2 linked regions of the Homo sapiens genome follow. The gene in region 1 interacts genetically with each later gene. Each region holds a gene or a part of one and is shown on either strand. Other genes may lie near its edges.

Region 1 (7,625 bases):
GATGACACTGCGTCGAGCTTGTCATCTCCAATCATTAAAGCTGTCAGGAATCCATCAGGTTTACAGCTAATTAGGTGAACACTAATGAAGCTGGCAAAACAACTTTTCTTTTTTTATGGCTGAGCGGACCTTTCAGTTTGGAGGGGAAAAAAATTCTCGAGTATTCTCAAGGTTGCTGGGGACTGGATTTCCAGTTACCAATCAGCAGACATCTTTCTTTTCCCCACTCTCTCTCTCTATCAGTACAAAGCAATCAATTTGTCATCACTCCCAGTATGCCACAAAAGCTGGCATGAACCTTATAACTTGCAGCTGGGAAAACTAAAAAAGAGGAGAAAAAAATGGGAAGTTTCTGGTCCATCCAAACAAACAAACCACCCCCAAAAAAAAAACCTCTGTGCATACTTATCACCAGCCTAAATGTGGAGTTTTTTTTTTTTCTCTCCACTCTTCTTAAATAAGTAGCTCTTCAGTCCGCCTCCACCCCCTCCTCCACATGTCCATTAGGCAGAGGCATTCTGATAAAGTAAATCCAAAACCCGAGTATGGGAAAGAAATAAAGCACTCATGCTGCCAGCTTCTGATTGACCATTAAGCTATTGATGAATGTGCCTGTCAGGAGAGAGACAATTAAATCAAATATGAAACAAAGTCGTTTTGACGGGTCATTTTGATAGAGCAAAACCATTCTTCCATCTCCTATTAGTCCTGCAGTCAAGTTTTTTATATAATGAATTTTTCTTAACTGACCTGAGATTTCCTGGCTGGCTTTCTTTAAAAAAAAAAAAAAAGTGTGAAAAGGTTAGTGAACAGGTTGCTCTAAAAATAAATAAATAAATAAATAAATAAAGCCAACAGCAGGTTCCCTCCTCCTCTGATATTTTTCTGGAGGAAGCTATCAAATACGAGTCTCAGATTGGCAGGGTGCAACCGAAGAGATGAACTAGAGAGAGAGTTCTGAACCAAATGTAAAGATGTAATCACATATGGTTCATTGGATGGAGGCACACACATACCTTAAAATGTGTATCCAAAAAGGAAAGAAAAAAAAAATTTCAAAGACTGGAAGAAGCCCAAGACATTCCTACTACTCAACTTTGTGAAGGATTCCTCCAAAGTTTCAGAGTTTATTTTGGGTAGATAAGCTCATTGCTTGAGCCTGGAATTTAAAGTAGAAGGTGGGACGGGCAAGAAGCAAGCTCCAGGAGGTTAACTAGGGAGGCGGCAAGCTCCCTACAATCACTCCTGGAATTTTCAAACTTTCTAAATTTGGGCAACACCGAGGACAGAGAGCAAAACCTGCATCCTAAGCCCCAAACCAACCCTGTTTTCTTCTGAGATTTTCTGAAGACACTGGCAGGCAAGTACATTTCTGGGAGAAGAGAGAATTATCATTCCTTCTCTGTGACCCCGTGTAAGGGGTCTGGAGTGCAGAGTGCAGCCAACGTGTGAGGTCCCCTGGCAGTGCCGGCTGGCATGATGGAAATTATGGGCACTCAGGGCACCATGGCTACAACGCCTTCCTCCAAGATGGGCACCAGCCAATGCCCTGACCCTACTCTCTGCCCTTCCCTCTTAACATCAAAAGAGAAGTAAAAGAAAGGAAGAGAAAAGAAAAGAAAGGAAGCCCCACTTAACCCTCCCCTTCAGGGAGCATCTGAACCTCTGCACATCTGAGTGTTACTCATATCAAAATACATCACGTCCATATGTGGTCCTCTCGGCAATCCGCCCCAAATCCCAAAGTTGCACTGACAGGGCCCTCCTGACGTCACAGAGCTTGGCCTCACTATTGCAAGTGATTTATTGATGTTTATTGGGAATGAATAGATCAAAGGCAGCAGCATGACGGGCGATCAATCAGTCATCAAATCAAGGATGGCAACGGGCCAGAAACCCTTCTTCCAGGCAACATGCCCCCAACCGACATTATTGCAAAATAATGTTATGTGTGTGGTTTTTGTTTTGTTTTCAATGATGCGTTTTCCAGAAAAGAAAAGAAAAAAATCGGCTCAGTCTTAACAGGAGTTGACACTCCCGGTTAAAGAAGAAGAAAAAAAAAAAAAAAGGAGGAACAAAAAAGTACTCAGACACGTCCCAGAACTAAGTGCTATGCGGAGATGAGGGTGGGAGCAGCAGTACAAGGAGGGGGTGGGGGCGAGGAAACACAAACAGGGGAGAAGGAAACGCCAGCATCTAACATGGACTTGACAGTCATCTGACAATACCCAGACCCTGTGCGCTCCGGGTTCCACCGCTGTGCCCAGTTTGGGCCCAAGAAATGAGGAATCAATCGTGTTAGTACTAAGGTGGCCGAGGGGACCGGCTCGCTCACTCGTTCGCGCTCCCTGGCTCGGCGGACACCAGGCAGTCCCCCGGCGGTCGGCCGCTCGGAGGACGCGGAAGATGTCCCGGGGAACTCAGGTGACCCCGCCCGCCACCCACAGAAAGAGCCAGGCCGGGGTTGCTTCCCATTCCCTCTGCAGCCGGAGAGCTGAGGAGGTAGGGACCTGGCGCGGCTCAGCGCGCTCCGCGAGCGGCTCCCCAAATGGGTGCGAGAGGGAAGAGGGCAGAGCGCGGCGGGGCGTCCGGGGGGCGCCCGGTACCCGAGGCGGGCGCACGCACCCAAACAGGAGAGCGGCGCCCGGAGTTACTCAGTGCGGGCAGAAGAGCGGGGCGAGGAGCGGGGTCGCGCCCGCTGGAGGCGCGGGGCGAGCGGAGGAAGAGGAGGAGGAGAGCAGAAGGAAGGGGAAGCGGCTCGTACCTGCTGCGCGCCGGGGCGCCTGCTGCTTCCTCCTCGGCATGATGCTTCTCCGGCGACTGCCACTGCCGCCGCCGCCGCCGCTGCCGGGCTGAGGACAGGGAGGGAGGGGGCGGCGGGCCCGCGGGGGGGCGAGGCGGGCCTGCTCTCAGCCTCCCCCCCGGAGAGCGGCCGCCCGCAGGATGCTGCTGCGCCCAGGCTCTCCGCGTCCCCCCCGCGCCGCGCTCCGCCGCGAACCCCGAACGTGCGGAGGGAAGAAGGAGGGCGGGCGAGGGAGGCTCGGGGAGGGAGGAGCACGGGGGGGAGGAGGAGGCAGAGGAGGAGGAGGTGGAGGAGGAGGAGGAGGACCGCGCTGCCGGCGGAATGGGAAGTTTGACAAATCGCTCCAGAGGCCAGAGGAGGAGGGGGCGGGGAGGAGCGGCGGCCCTGCCCCCCCCCGCCCCGTCCCCAGACGAGGTGCGCGGGGTTCGGGGCTGGGGGGCGGGGAGAGGGCGGGCAGAGCGGTGGGAGGAGGAGCGCGGGAGCGGCCCGGACCGGTACTGCCCCGGCCCCCGCCCCTAGGCCGGGGGTCACGGCATCCGGGGGGACGCGCAGCCGCCGCCGCGGCCCGGGGCTCGGCGGTCCAGTCTTCTGCCCGTGGCGCGGCTGGAGCGGCGGCGTCGGCAACAGGCAAGCTTAAAGGAAAAGGAGATGATCGTGTCAATCGCCCGCCCGCGGGGGCGCCGCGCCCCCGCCCCCGGCCCCAGGCCCGCGTGGGACCCCCGCCCCGCCAGCGAAAGGGGTGCCGCCCCTCCGCCTCCGCCCCGTGCGCACACGCGGGGGCGCGGCGCCAGCCCCGCCGAGCCCGTCCCGGGGCGCTCGTTACCCCCCACCCCTATTCCCACCCAGCGTTCGTCCCCAGCCACCCCCCAGCTGCCCCACCCGGCTCGCACTCCTCTCCACCCGCCGACTCCGGAGCCCCCAGCGTGGTCCCCGGGCCGGGGCTGGCGTCCCCCGGGGAAGCCAGAGCCCACGGGCAGGCCCCCTCCAGGGAGGAGGCGGGCGCGGGCCGGGGCGGGTGGGGGCAGCCCTCAGACCCCGCGCCACCCAGCTCCTCCCCCAGGACCCGCCGTAGCCACTTCCCCCAATTTTTTTTCCCCGGACAAACTTTCCTGGGCCCGTCCCGGGGGTCGGTGTGGGAGGGGGTTCCTTCAAGTTTCCTCTCCTGACTTTGGGATGATCAGGGTCCCTCCACCCCGCCCCTCGCCCCCGGGAGCCGGGCCGCGCCCCCCATCCACGGCGCGGGCCGATCCTAGGGCGGGACGGGGGCGGGAGAAGGAAACCGGGCTCCCCTGCCCATCCCCCGCCAGGGGCTCCCCCCGAGAGCCTAGGGGGCCGCCGCGCCGTGTCCCGCGCCCGGCCTGCCGGGGCTGCTGGACTAGAGGGATTGATTATTGATTGGTGATCGGGGTCGCTGAGGCTCCGGGCCGGCCCGGCCGACTGGCCGCGGCAAGAAGGAGCTGGCTGGGCGGCGTGGGCGGCGGGGCGACGCGGGCTCACTTACGGGCGGCGGTGAGGGCGCGGGTGGGCCGGAGCTCATGCGGGCGACCCCCGGGCGGCGGCGGCTGAGCGGGAGCCGGAGCCCGAGCGGCGCGGGCGGCGGCGCATCGATGCGCTGCGGGCTCGATTGCGTCTCCCTGGGCCAGCTCTCAGGCCGGGAATGGGGCGGCCGCGCCGGGGCCGGCTCCGGGCGCTGCCGGGCGGCGGCTGCTGGAGCGCGGGGGCGGCCTCCGGGCCCACTATCCCCGAGGCGGCCCTGCGCCCGGGCGCGCCGGCTGGGGCTCTGGCGCTCTCGCAGGCCCCGAGGCCGACAGTCCCGGCGAGGGCGGGCGCCCCGCGCTCCAGCACCGGCTGCCTGAGCGCTCCTGGAGCAGCAAACCCCAGACTTCTTCCTCCTTCTCTCCTTCCTTCCTTCCCCCTCCCCTTATCTTTTTCTTTTTTTAGTCTCTTTCTCCCTCTTTTTCTGCCCTGTGTCCTTTTTATTTTTTCTCTACGACTGTTTTTGCAAGTTTGTTTCAAAAGTTCACAGCATGCTTTCTTTTCTTTTAGACCGGGAGACAGTGATCTCACCCACACGGTAAGATCAAAAGTCTCCGCTCGCCCAGCCTGCGGGCTTGGGCTGGGTCCAGACGTCTCCCAGGATGCAGATGCGCCGCCGCTGGCCTCCCCGGCTATAAAGCCGCCTCCAGCGCCTTTCCGCGCGCAGGAGCGCTCGGAGTTGTGGGGTACGGACCCCAGGCGGGGCAGGGAGTCCGAGGCGGGCTGCGGCGGGGCTCTCGGGCTGGCGGACTCGGGGGCTGAGGCGCCGTGCGCGTTGGGTGCCCGCGGCCGCAGAGGCCAGAACCGCTACTCCTCCAGGCCGGGGAGACGCGGCCGTGGAGCGTGAAACGCTTCTTGCAAGCGAGGAAACGGTGAGTTGGCCGACACCGCCGGCGGCCTCACCATTCTGGTGGCCGCGCTGAGCTCCTGTCGCCTGGAGGCGGGTTGCGCCGCACGGGGTCAGCTCCCGCCGGCTCCCAGCTCACCTTCGAAGCTCCCACTTAGGCGCGCCCGGTGCGGCGTGTGCACAGCGCGGGGCGCCGCACACGGAAGCGTGTAGTTCTCCCTGGTCGCGCTTTTCTCCTCCTTTCCATCCCCTCGCTGTTCTTGCAAACCTCTGTTCCTTCGGCCCCCTCCCACTGCGGGCCGCGGCCTGAACTCGGGTCTCCGCGTAGCCGGCCGCCGCCGCTGGGTCGCTGCCTGGCCCTCCCCCGCTCAGGCGCCGAGCGCTGTGCGATCCGCCCTAACATCTGTCCGTCCAACCATTGGCGCATCCATCAGTGTCAATGGGCTGCACATTGCAGCGACAGCCCGCCACGCACAACACGGGCTATGCGGAGTGCACGCAGCAACCATACTGCCATGTCGGGACACGCAAAAAGGCCCCCGGCCTGGCTTGGCACAGCCTGAAGGCCTAATCTGTGTTCTTTCAGCCACATGTACCCACCCCCACTTAATATCTGGACCCCCAAACATGAATAGTTTTGCAGACCATTGTAGGGATGGAATTGAAGGAAGAGGGGCAGTGTCGCCCGAGTCATTATTTTCCACCAGGTTTTCTCTGCCCTTGTGTGGGCTGGGTGTGGCTAGGAGAGAAGGAAGGGAGACTTCCCAAATCCGCACCAAGCACACTGCAGAACCGGAAGCTACCTGGATGCAAGGGCTTAAACCCCCTTCACCTGGGCCTAGGATGTGTTGTCGAGGTCGCTGGCCAGGTTTTAGCCAGGAGGTCTCGCGCTAAAACTTTTTGGCCCCGCCTGGCTGCTGTGTGTGACATGGCCTGATGGAGAGGAGCTGGAGAGCGGAGGAAAACGTGGATCCCAGTGAGAACTAAGGGCCAGATTTAGGGAGAAATAGTGTCTGGATGGCAGTAAGTCTGTAATTCACATTTTGTTTACAAAGGGAGAAAGGGCAGGGCTGTAGGTTTGAGAAGCCAGAGGTTTGCGCGGAGTTCCGTGTGCCCATTCCCCGAGAGTGCCGCTCTTGGCTGTAGTTGTTTGTTCTACCTGATTTTGCCTCTTGCCTTCAACTCCCCCATAACCCCTCCCCAAATGTCCAGAGGGCAAACATATGCGCATACCTCCCTGATCAATCCAGCCAGACCAAAGGGCCTTCCCTGTCCTCCCCCTAAGAACTTAATGGGAAGAGTGTACGGGGGACCTACTCTTGGGACATCTGCAGGGCGGCTGTACCAGGCGTTTTACCTGACTTTATTCTTACCGCAAAGATTTCCGTCTCGGTACCTGGTGCCCCCTCAGAGTCCACTACACAAACGGGTAAAATCCCGCGCGGCTATTCATTTCGCCATTCGCGAGTAAGAAGGGGAAAAGGAGCCGCTTCTAGGAGAGCACTGAGGTATGCTCGGTTCGGTTCCCGAGGAGGCCAGAAGCGGCCGCGGCGGCGCGGGCTGGAGCTCCCTCCTGCAGGGAGACACCGCGCTCTAGGGTGCGGGCTTCGCCGCCCACATCCAGTGGTCGAACTGTTTTCACGCTAGACTAGAGGGCGGAAAAGTCTGCGCCCGCGGAGAAACTAGAATTCTGTAGAATGTACACTGTGTAGAAATCTTTTCACCCCACTCTTCAGAGTTGCAGATTATCTTTGAAAAACAACAGGCTCTGGCCCTGCCAGCCCTAGTAACTTCTACCCGCCTGAGTCACTCTGAAAAGTAAGCCCCTAGGCCAGTGAGATGTCCCCACCTTTGGGAGGTGCCGCCTTTCCGGGAACATTAAAAAAAAAACCCTAAAAATAGAAGGAGGAAAAATGAGCAAAGGCGGTGGGACGACTCACCGAAACACCGAGGTGCAAATGTCCATTGGAGAAACTGGCAGTCGCATGGCAGCCAGCTGGCTCACCCAATAGCTGGGTGGTAACCTTGTGATCCCCAAACATCCCCCAGGGCCATGAAGGCAGTGCTGACCCCCACGATTGCACCTCAGGCCCGGTGGAATCCCGCTCCTCCTCCATAGTGGTGCTATGTAATCAGTAGAAAATCAGTAGAAAAGCTCCCAAATGAAGCTGCTTCAGGTCAGGGGTTAGAAATCTGCCTCAGACTTTTTGAACTCAAGGAAATCGGGACATCTGTCCCCAGAGCTACCTGTGCCCCACCCCAGGATCATTCATGACCTTAGCTACCGGGAGCTCTGCCCGGATAAGTTTTTAAAAGAGAGAGAGAAAGAAAAAAGTCACATGCAGGCAAGGCTAGGAACAGGTGTGTGCTGTGGGGACGGGCACTTGGCTCGCAACACACCACACAAAGTCACGAAGTCTGTGCCAGAAAGGAGTAGCC
Region 2 (7,032 bases), on another chromosome or scaffold:
TTCTCCGAAAGGCCTGGGGCTGTGCCAGCTGCAGCAGGTGCCTCCCAGGCCCGGCCAGAGGGCCCCAGGCAAGGGGGTGGAGCCCGGGTGGGGGTGATGAGGATGCTGGGGTCCACTTTTGTAGCGCCAGAGGCGACGGGCTCTGTCTGGTTGTAGCATCACAGAGCTTGATGGGAACTTTCACTCTGAGACCCCTTTTATGGATAAGAAAACTGAGGCTGGGGGGCAGGAGCAGCTTACCCCAGAGGTCCTCTCTCCCAGAGGGCTAGGGTGGGGATAAGCAGGGTCTCGGGGGCAGCAAGACCCAGCTCCAAATGTGGTTTTTCTGCCTTCTGGCTGTGTGACTCAGAAGGGTTGCTCAGCTTCTCTGTGCTGTTATGGTTTGTCAGTGCAGTGTGGCAGGTGTGTGTCTTGCTTGTGGAATGCAGTGTCTAGCCTGGTATCCTTAGAAAGTGGCTGAGGTTGGAGATTGGTGGGGCAGAGTCCCTGAAGCTGACCCATTCTTGCCTTCAACCTTCAGGGAGACGCTGCTGGAAGTGGTGAGCTGAGAGCACTGGGCAGGAGTCAGAGCCTAGCGTCTCCCTGTGGAGCTGGGTGCACCCACGTGGGTGGGTGCCCTTGCCAGGGAGCTCACACCCTTGGGGGTCCATGAGCTGGCAGGCAGGGCTACCTGGCTTGGTGTGCCCTTGGGTGGAGGCTCCCATGGGGCCCTTCAGACTGGGCACAGCCCTCCTGTCCTCTGCTCCCCAGCCTGCTTGCCCACCTGGAGGTGGGAGGAGGCGAGGGTTGCCGGCACAGCTGGGCCAGGCTGATGGTGATGTTTTCTGGAAGTGTGGGTGGGGAGAGCCTGGCAGGGGGAGGGGGGGTCGTGCTCTCAGCTGGGCCCCTTGATGACCTCAGATTGCAGGGACCAGGTTGTTTGAGAGCTGCAAGCAGGGCCACACCTCCAGGGACCCTGTGCTGGGGGTACCACCCTTGCCGCTCCACCCTGCTCTGAGGGCCCTGGGTGGCCAGGGCGGGCACAGAGTGGGTGGTGATGCCAGCTGCATCCCTGGGGTTCATAGTCTGGGGAGCACATGAGTTCCCGGCACAATGCTCCCAGGAGGCAGAGCCAGGAGTCGCAGGGAGGCGTTTGCTTGAGAGGGTCTGGGAGGGCTTCCTGGAAGAGGGGGCATCAGTGCCGAGCCTCAGAGTTTGTGGAGCCCGCCGCCTGGCTGAATCCTGCCTGCCGGTGTTACCTCAGGGTGTTCCTCGTTGCAGTGCCTCAGTTTCCTCACCAGTACGCTAGGAGAGACCAGCGTAGCCAGCCACAGCGGGGTCGTGAGGATTAAGTGAGGGGACAGCAGTGTCTGGCACGGTGGGTGCTGAGTAAATTCATGGAGGAGTGCCCGGGCGGTGGGGCTGGTGGGCTGGGCAGGGGGTCTGAACTGGAGGGACTCGGGCGCCCTCCTCCTCAGGGTGCAGGACAGCACCTGCACGGCGGGGCCGCATTTCCATTTCCAAAGCTGGGCGCGCTCTGTCCAGGCCTCCCCACCAGGAGCGCGGCCCGGCGGCTCCTGCCCTCCGGACCCCCAGCCCACAGGCCCGTGCAGCCCCATGAGGGGGCCAGGGGGAGCTCCGAGGTTCTAGGGAGGGCGCGCACCGGGAGAGGGCGCCGGGCCGGCCGGCGGGAGGAAGGAGGGGTCCCGGGCGGCAGCGCCCCCGGCCCTCGCCGCGCCCCGCACTTCCCTTTCCTGGCTGGGCTTCCTCTTCCCCGCGCCCGCCCTGCGCGGCCCCTTTGTTTCCCGGGCAGGGCGCGGCTATATTTAGGCGGCAGGTGTGGGAGCCCCCGGCAGCCGGGTCGCCCGCCGGTCACGCCCCCCACGTGACGCCCGGGCGCTATAAATAGCCGCAGGCGGCGGTGGCGGCAGCGCCTGGAGCCGGCTCCGCGGCGGAGGGGCGGCGCCCCGACCCAGGGCCAGCACCGTGGGCACCGCCAGGCCGGCGCGTATGGAGGCGGTGGGACGCCTGCGGCGCGGGTGAGCCTGGCAGGTGGGGACGCGGCGGACCCAGGCCTTCCGGGACCCCAGCCCCGCCGGGGAGGAGGTGGCGCCCTCCGGAGGGCTGGGCGGGAGCCCCGCTGGCACCCAGGGAGGGGGCCGCGCCCCTTACCACGACCCCACCCGCGACTGGTTCCCCGGGACTCCCCAGAGCGCCCGCCTCAGCCCTGACCGCGGCGCAGCTTACTTCTCCTGAGACCCGCTGAGCCCCGGGCCTCCAGCCTCCTCCCCCAAAATCACAGGGGGCGCCCTGTCTGAAGCGGGGGCTGGATTCAAACTTCTTAAGCTGCTGTGCCATCGGGAAGGAGGGCGGTAGCCTCCCTGAACCTCGATTTCCTCTTCTGTGCAGGGCGCTGCGTGTTGTTCCTGCCTCCTAGATTTGAGCCAGAGAGAACCCAGTTAACTGGACGCCTGGTGTGGCCCTGGTGGAGAATGTTCTCCCCTCTCCCTGGCTTGTTTCCTCATCTCGCAAACAGGGACAAGGATGGACTCTCCCTTAAAGGGTCTTGAGAAATAGCTGAGGGCTCTGGGCCTGCTGGCCCGAGGAGGCTGAGCCAGATCTTGGGAAGGGTTCTGCAGGGCTTGGTAGCAGGAGGGAAGGAGGTAGCAGGAGGGAAAGAGGGGCCACGGCTGCCAGTGGGTCCCCGTGCTGTGGGCCGCGGGCCTGGTGGGGGTGGTAGCGACTCAGGACACATGGAGGCAGGGGCAACCTGTCCCCATTTCGCAGATGGGAAGCCTGAGGCTTTGGCTTCAGGGAGTTCTCAGTGCCCATCCCTGGGGATCCTTAACCCTTGCTCTCAGGGCCCTACCTGGTGACCTCACTGGGGGCGTGTGGTTATGGAGGGGTTTTCTCCCTTGGGGGACAGCCACCAGGCAGGGCAGAGCCACATAGTGGTGCCAGGGCATCATTGCTTTGCTCTCACCTGGGGCAGGGGTAGGGGCCCTAGGCTGCAGAGACAAGTGGGATGTGTGGCAAGACCCTGGTCCAGCCTCTCCCTGGACCCCTAACCCCATTCTAGCCTGGGCTGTGACCCCTGAGCGTAGCCCAGGCTAACCCCCTGATTCCGGCAGATGTGTGGCATCCTTAGGCCTTCAGTGGGGGGTAGTGTGGGGTGGTTCGGAGCCTCCTCCCTCCCAGTAGCCTGCAGCCCTGAGGACCTGTGCAGGGCCACTAGGCAGCAGGTCCAGGCCACGTGCTGGTGCCTGTGGGGTCTTCCTGGGTCCCTGGCAGCTGTAGGTGTGAGGGGTTGGTCAGCCCCTCAGGGAGAGGCCCAATACTGTGGTTTCTCTGGTGCTTTTCTTCCTTTCTTTCTGTAAACATGAGCTCGGCTCCCGTGTGCACACACACAGGGACATCCTGCTGCCCCAAGAGGGACCCAGGTGTTTGTGTGCTGTTAGCACGTGGTGGCTTCCCTCACCCACACTCAGAGCCTGTGCTCCCTCCAGTCGGGCAAGGTGGGGACTGGCGGGACCAGGGACAGTATCCTTGTCTCCACCTTTACCTCCTTCTGGGGGTCCCACCCCACCACCGGTTTTTTTTTTTTTTTTTGAGACGGAGTTTTGCTCTTGTTGCCCAGGCTAGAGGGCAATGGAGCGATCTCGGCTCACTGCAACCTCTGCCTCCAGGGTTCAAGCGATTCTCCTGCCTCAGCCTCCCGAGTAGCTGGGATTACAGGCATGCACTTCCATGCCTGGCTCATTTTTTATTTTTTTATTTTTAGTAGAGATGGGGTTTCTCCATGTTGGTCAGGCTGGTCTTGAACTCCTGACCTCAGGTGATCCGCCCGCCTTGGCCTCCCAAAATGCTGGGATTACAGGAGTGAGCCACTGCGCCTGACACCCACCGCCCATTTTAACCTTCCCAGAACCATGCAGTGGACAGAGCCTGAGGTGTGGCGGCTGCTCTGAGCCCATGAGCACTGGCTGCCACCCAGGGTGTGGAGGGCAGGCAGGGAGGAGCCCACTGTCCCAGGTAGCCACCCTCTGAGTCCAGGGGCCCAGGCCTCAAGCCCTACCTGCACCTGGGCTGAAGCTCCAAGGGCCCAGCCTGCCTGGTGGGCAGCTGGGAAGGGGGTGCTGGGGCTGGGGCAGGGGCACAGGTGAGAGGGGGTGGGTTGGGGAATGGAGGGCTCTGCTGGGCGAGGGGCCCTGAAGTGCCTTTCCTTGGGTAGCAGGCAGTAGTGACAGGGCCGGGCTTGGGTTGAGTCTAGGGGGCTGGAGAGTCTGCTAACAGCTGGGTCACAGCCAGGGCCAGCAGTGCGGGGACCCCTCAGCAGCAGTGCCCAAATACAGCTTGGGTCACTTGTGTCACCCCTCATCGTGCTCATGGGGTAACAAAGAGGCCGGCACCTTGCTCAAGGCCTCCCAGCCCTTCCGTAGAGAGGGAAGGGGGCTGCGTGCTCCTGGAACCCCTTTGCCTGGGAGCTTTGGGGTCATGAGACCCAGAAAGGGAGAGAGGCAGGCGTGGAGGTGCCTTGGGTTGCTGTGGCCCCCCCTGCCGCCTCCCCTCTTCAGGGCCCTGTCATGGTGTGAACCCACTCCTGGCCACCTGTGCTGTCACCACCTTGGCATGTGTGCCTGATGGCTGGCCCATTGGCGTGTTCTGTCCCCGCCTCCCTGAGCTCCTGGAGGGGCAGAGCTGGCCTGTTTATCCCCGAGCCTGGCTGAGACCTGTGTGAGCAGTGGAGACACAGTGGCGGGGGGACACTGGTGGACAGGGGGCTGCTGACAGGCAGGAGACTTTCTGCAGAAAGCAAGAGGCGATTAGGGTGGCCCACGGCCGCGTGTGGGGCCAGGCCCCTCACCTCCCTGTGCTGGCAGCACTGACCGAGTGCCTGGGCCCCATTCCCTGAGGATGGGCCACCCAGAGACACCTGGGCTCAGATGTTCACAGTGGCTGAGAATCGGAAGAGGAGAGGGCAGCTGTCCTGGGGTGGAGTTTCCGCAGATCACAGCAGGTGGGCAGGGGCCAGGCTCAGGCTTCTTAGGAACTCGGCCTCTGTCCCCACAGAGGGATCTGTCATCTGTGTGCTGGGGTTCATCATGTCCTCGGGGGTGTGTGTGTCCCTGAAATCCCTGTCCCCTCTGTCCTCCGTCATGCCCTGCTGGCTGTGTGGTGGCTACCCTGTCGCCTCTGGGCCCTGGGTCAGTCCTGGCAGGAGCCGTGCTTCCTTGTGCTCCCATATAAGGAAATAGACCCAAAAGGGTCATTCTCTCAGCATGGTCAGGAGGAGGGCTCTGGGAGAGGTGTCGCCTGTGACTGTGGGCTCATGACAGGCATGAACCCCTTGTGGGAGGCGGGGCCCCCTGTGATCCCTTTCTATTCATTTCCTTCGTCTTTCCCCACAGATGCTGTGTGCTGTGGACCCACCTGGGGTTCATGGAGTGGGCCACGGGGCCCAGCCCTAAGCACTGCTGCGCCCAGGGTCGCCGCGCCTCCTGCTGAGGGGTCCCCGTGCCACTGGCTCTCACCATTGCCCTCGCCTGCCGATGGCCTCTGCTGCCCAGCCTGGGGCCAGCTCTACCGCCTGAGCCCCCTGCCCCACTCCAGGACTCACCGTACCCCGATGGGGTAACGTGACACAGGCCCCACACGTCAGAGGCCGCTGTCCCCACGGCCACTGCCCGTGACCCCTGGCCCAAGGCAGCTGGAGTTGGTTCAGTTCAAGTTCATTCTTCCTCTGGCCCTTGGGGGCTTGGGGCCCACCTCTGAGTGAAGGGGGCTGTCTGCCCATCCACCAATGTGGAGAGGGCGCCCCCGGTGTGGGGTCCAGCTCTGGACACTGCTTGGCGGCCGGGTTCACTTTGAGTTTTTAAGTTTTCTTTGCTGAGCTTTTTTGGTTGTTCTTTTTATTTTTTGCCTCTTTATGACTATCCAGCTCTGAGAGACGGGAGTTTGGAGTTGCCCGCTTTACTTTGGTTGGGTTGGGGGGGGCGGCGGGCTGTTTTGTTCCTTTTCTTTTTTAAGAGTTGGGTTTTCTTTTTTAATTATCCAAACAGTGGGCAGCTTCCTCCCCCACACCCAAGTATTTGCACAATATTTGTGCGGGGTATGGGGGTGGGTTTTTAAATCTCGTTTCTCTTGGACAAGCACAGGGATCTCGTTCTCCTCATTTTTTGGGGGTGTGTGGGGACTTCTCAGGTCGTGTCCCCAGCCTTCTCTGCAGTCCCTTCTGCCCTGCCGGGCCCGTCGGGAGGCGCCATGGCTCGGATGAACCGCCCGGCCCCGGTGGAGGTGAGCTACAAACACATGCGCTTCCTCATCACCCACAACCCCACCAACGCCACGCTCAGCACCTTCATTGAGGTGAGTGGAGACGGAGGTGTGGCAGGCAGGTGGCCCAGGTGTCTGGGAAGCCCGGCTGAGCTGCCCTCAGGCCTCGCAAGAGGGGTCCCCAGCCCCGGCTGGCCAGACAGGGCTCACAGCCTTGGAACAAAGCCCAGTCGCCTGTTACAGGATCCTGGAGGAGGGAGATGGGGGTGCCCCGGGGGTTGGGGTTGAGGGTGTTGGGGGATCAACGGGGTCCCCTGGGAGGCCTGCAGGGGGCTGGCGTGTGATAGGAGGGACTCCACGCTGTGTGGATAGAGGCAGGGGGTGAGGCAGGGGGATACATGGACCAGGCTGTGCGTGCTCAGCCGTGGCCTGGGCTGGGGCCCTCCCGAGCCCTTTGCTGTCCCAGATGTTGCTGGGCTCTGGATGAGGCCTCAGGTTAGACCAGGCTGGACTAGGGGCTTCAGGGCCCAGATCTCTGTGTGAGGAGGGACTGAGCAAGGGTCAGCGCTGACCACAGGAGGGAGGGACCACTGTGCCCTGGAGAGGCAGCAGAGATACCTGCCGCTGGCAACCCTGGCAGATGGGACGAGATGCGTTTACAGAAGCTTTCTTGGGAGTGGAGTCTGGAGCGACCTGCATGGCCTCCTGGAGGAGCCTGGCCTCTGCAGAACGCCCTGCTGTTTGCAGGCCTGGGGCCGTTTGCAGCGTCTGCAGTTGTGT

The links. A genetic interaction does not mean that the proteins touch.
Region 2: changes in TSHZ3 (region 1) and PTP4A3 together harm fitness less than expected from each alone (positive genetic interaction), as found in Homo sapiens cells (one study listed by BioGRID).

Annotation. Positions count from the first base shown.
Region 1 is NC_000019.10:31,346,416-31,354,040, forward strand, and holds the start of TSHZ3 (teashirt homolog 3), read right to left. Parts: upstream 3,022-7,625; 5' UTR 2,805-3,021; coding exon 2,765-2,804; intron 2,503-2,764; exon of another isoform or gene 1-2,502. UniProt on the Homo sapiens protein: Transcriptional regulator involved in developmental processes. Functions in association with APBB1, SET and HDAC factors as a transcriptional repressor, that inhibits the expression of CASP4.
Region 2 is NC_000008.11:141,416,001-141,423,032, forward strand, and holds part of PTP4A3 (protein tyrosine phosphatase type IVA 3), read left to right. Parts: intron 1-125; exon of another isoform or gene 126-1,357; intron 1,358-1,908; exon of another isoform or gene 1,909-2,031; intron 2,032-2,388; exon of another isoform or gene 2,389-5,387; 5' UTR 5,388-6,240; coding exon 6,241-6,345; intron 6,346-7,032. UniProt on the Homo sapiens protein: Protein tyrosine phosphatase which stimulates progression from G1 into S phase during mitosis. Enhances cell proliferation, cell motility and invasive activity, and promotes cancer metastasis.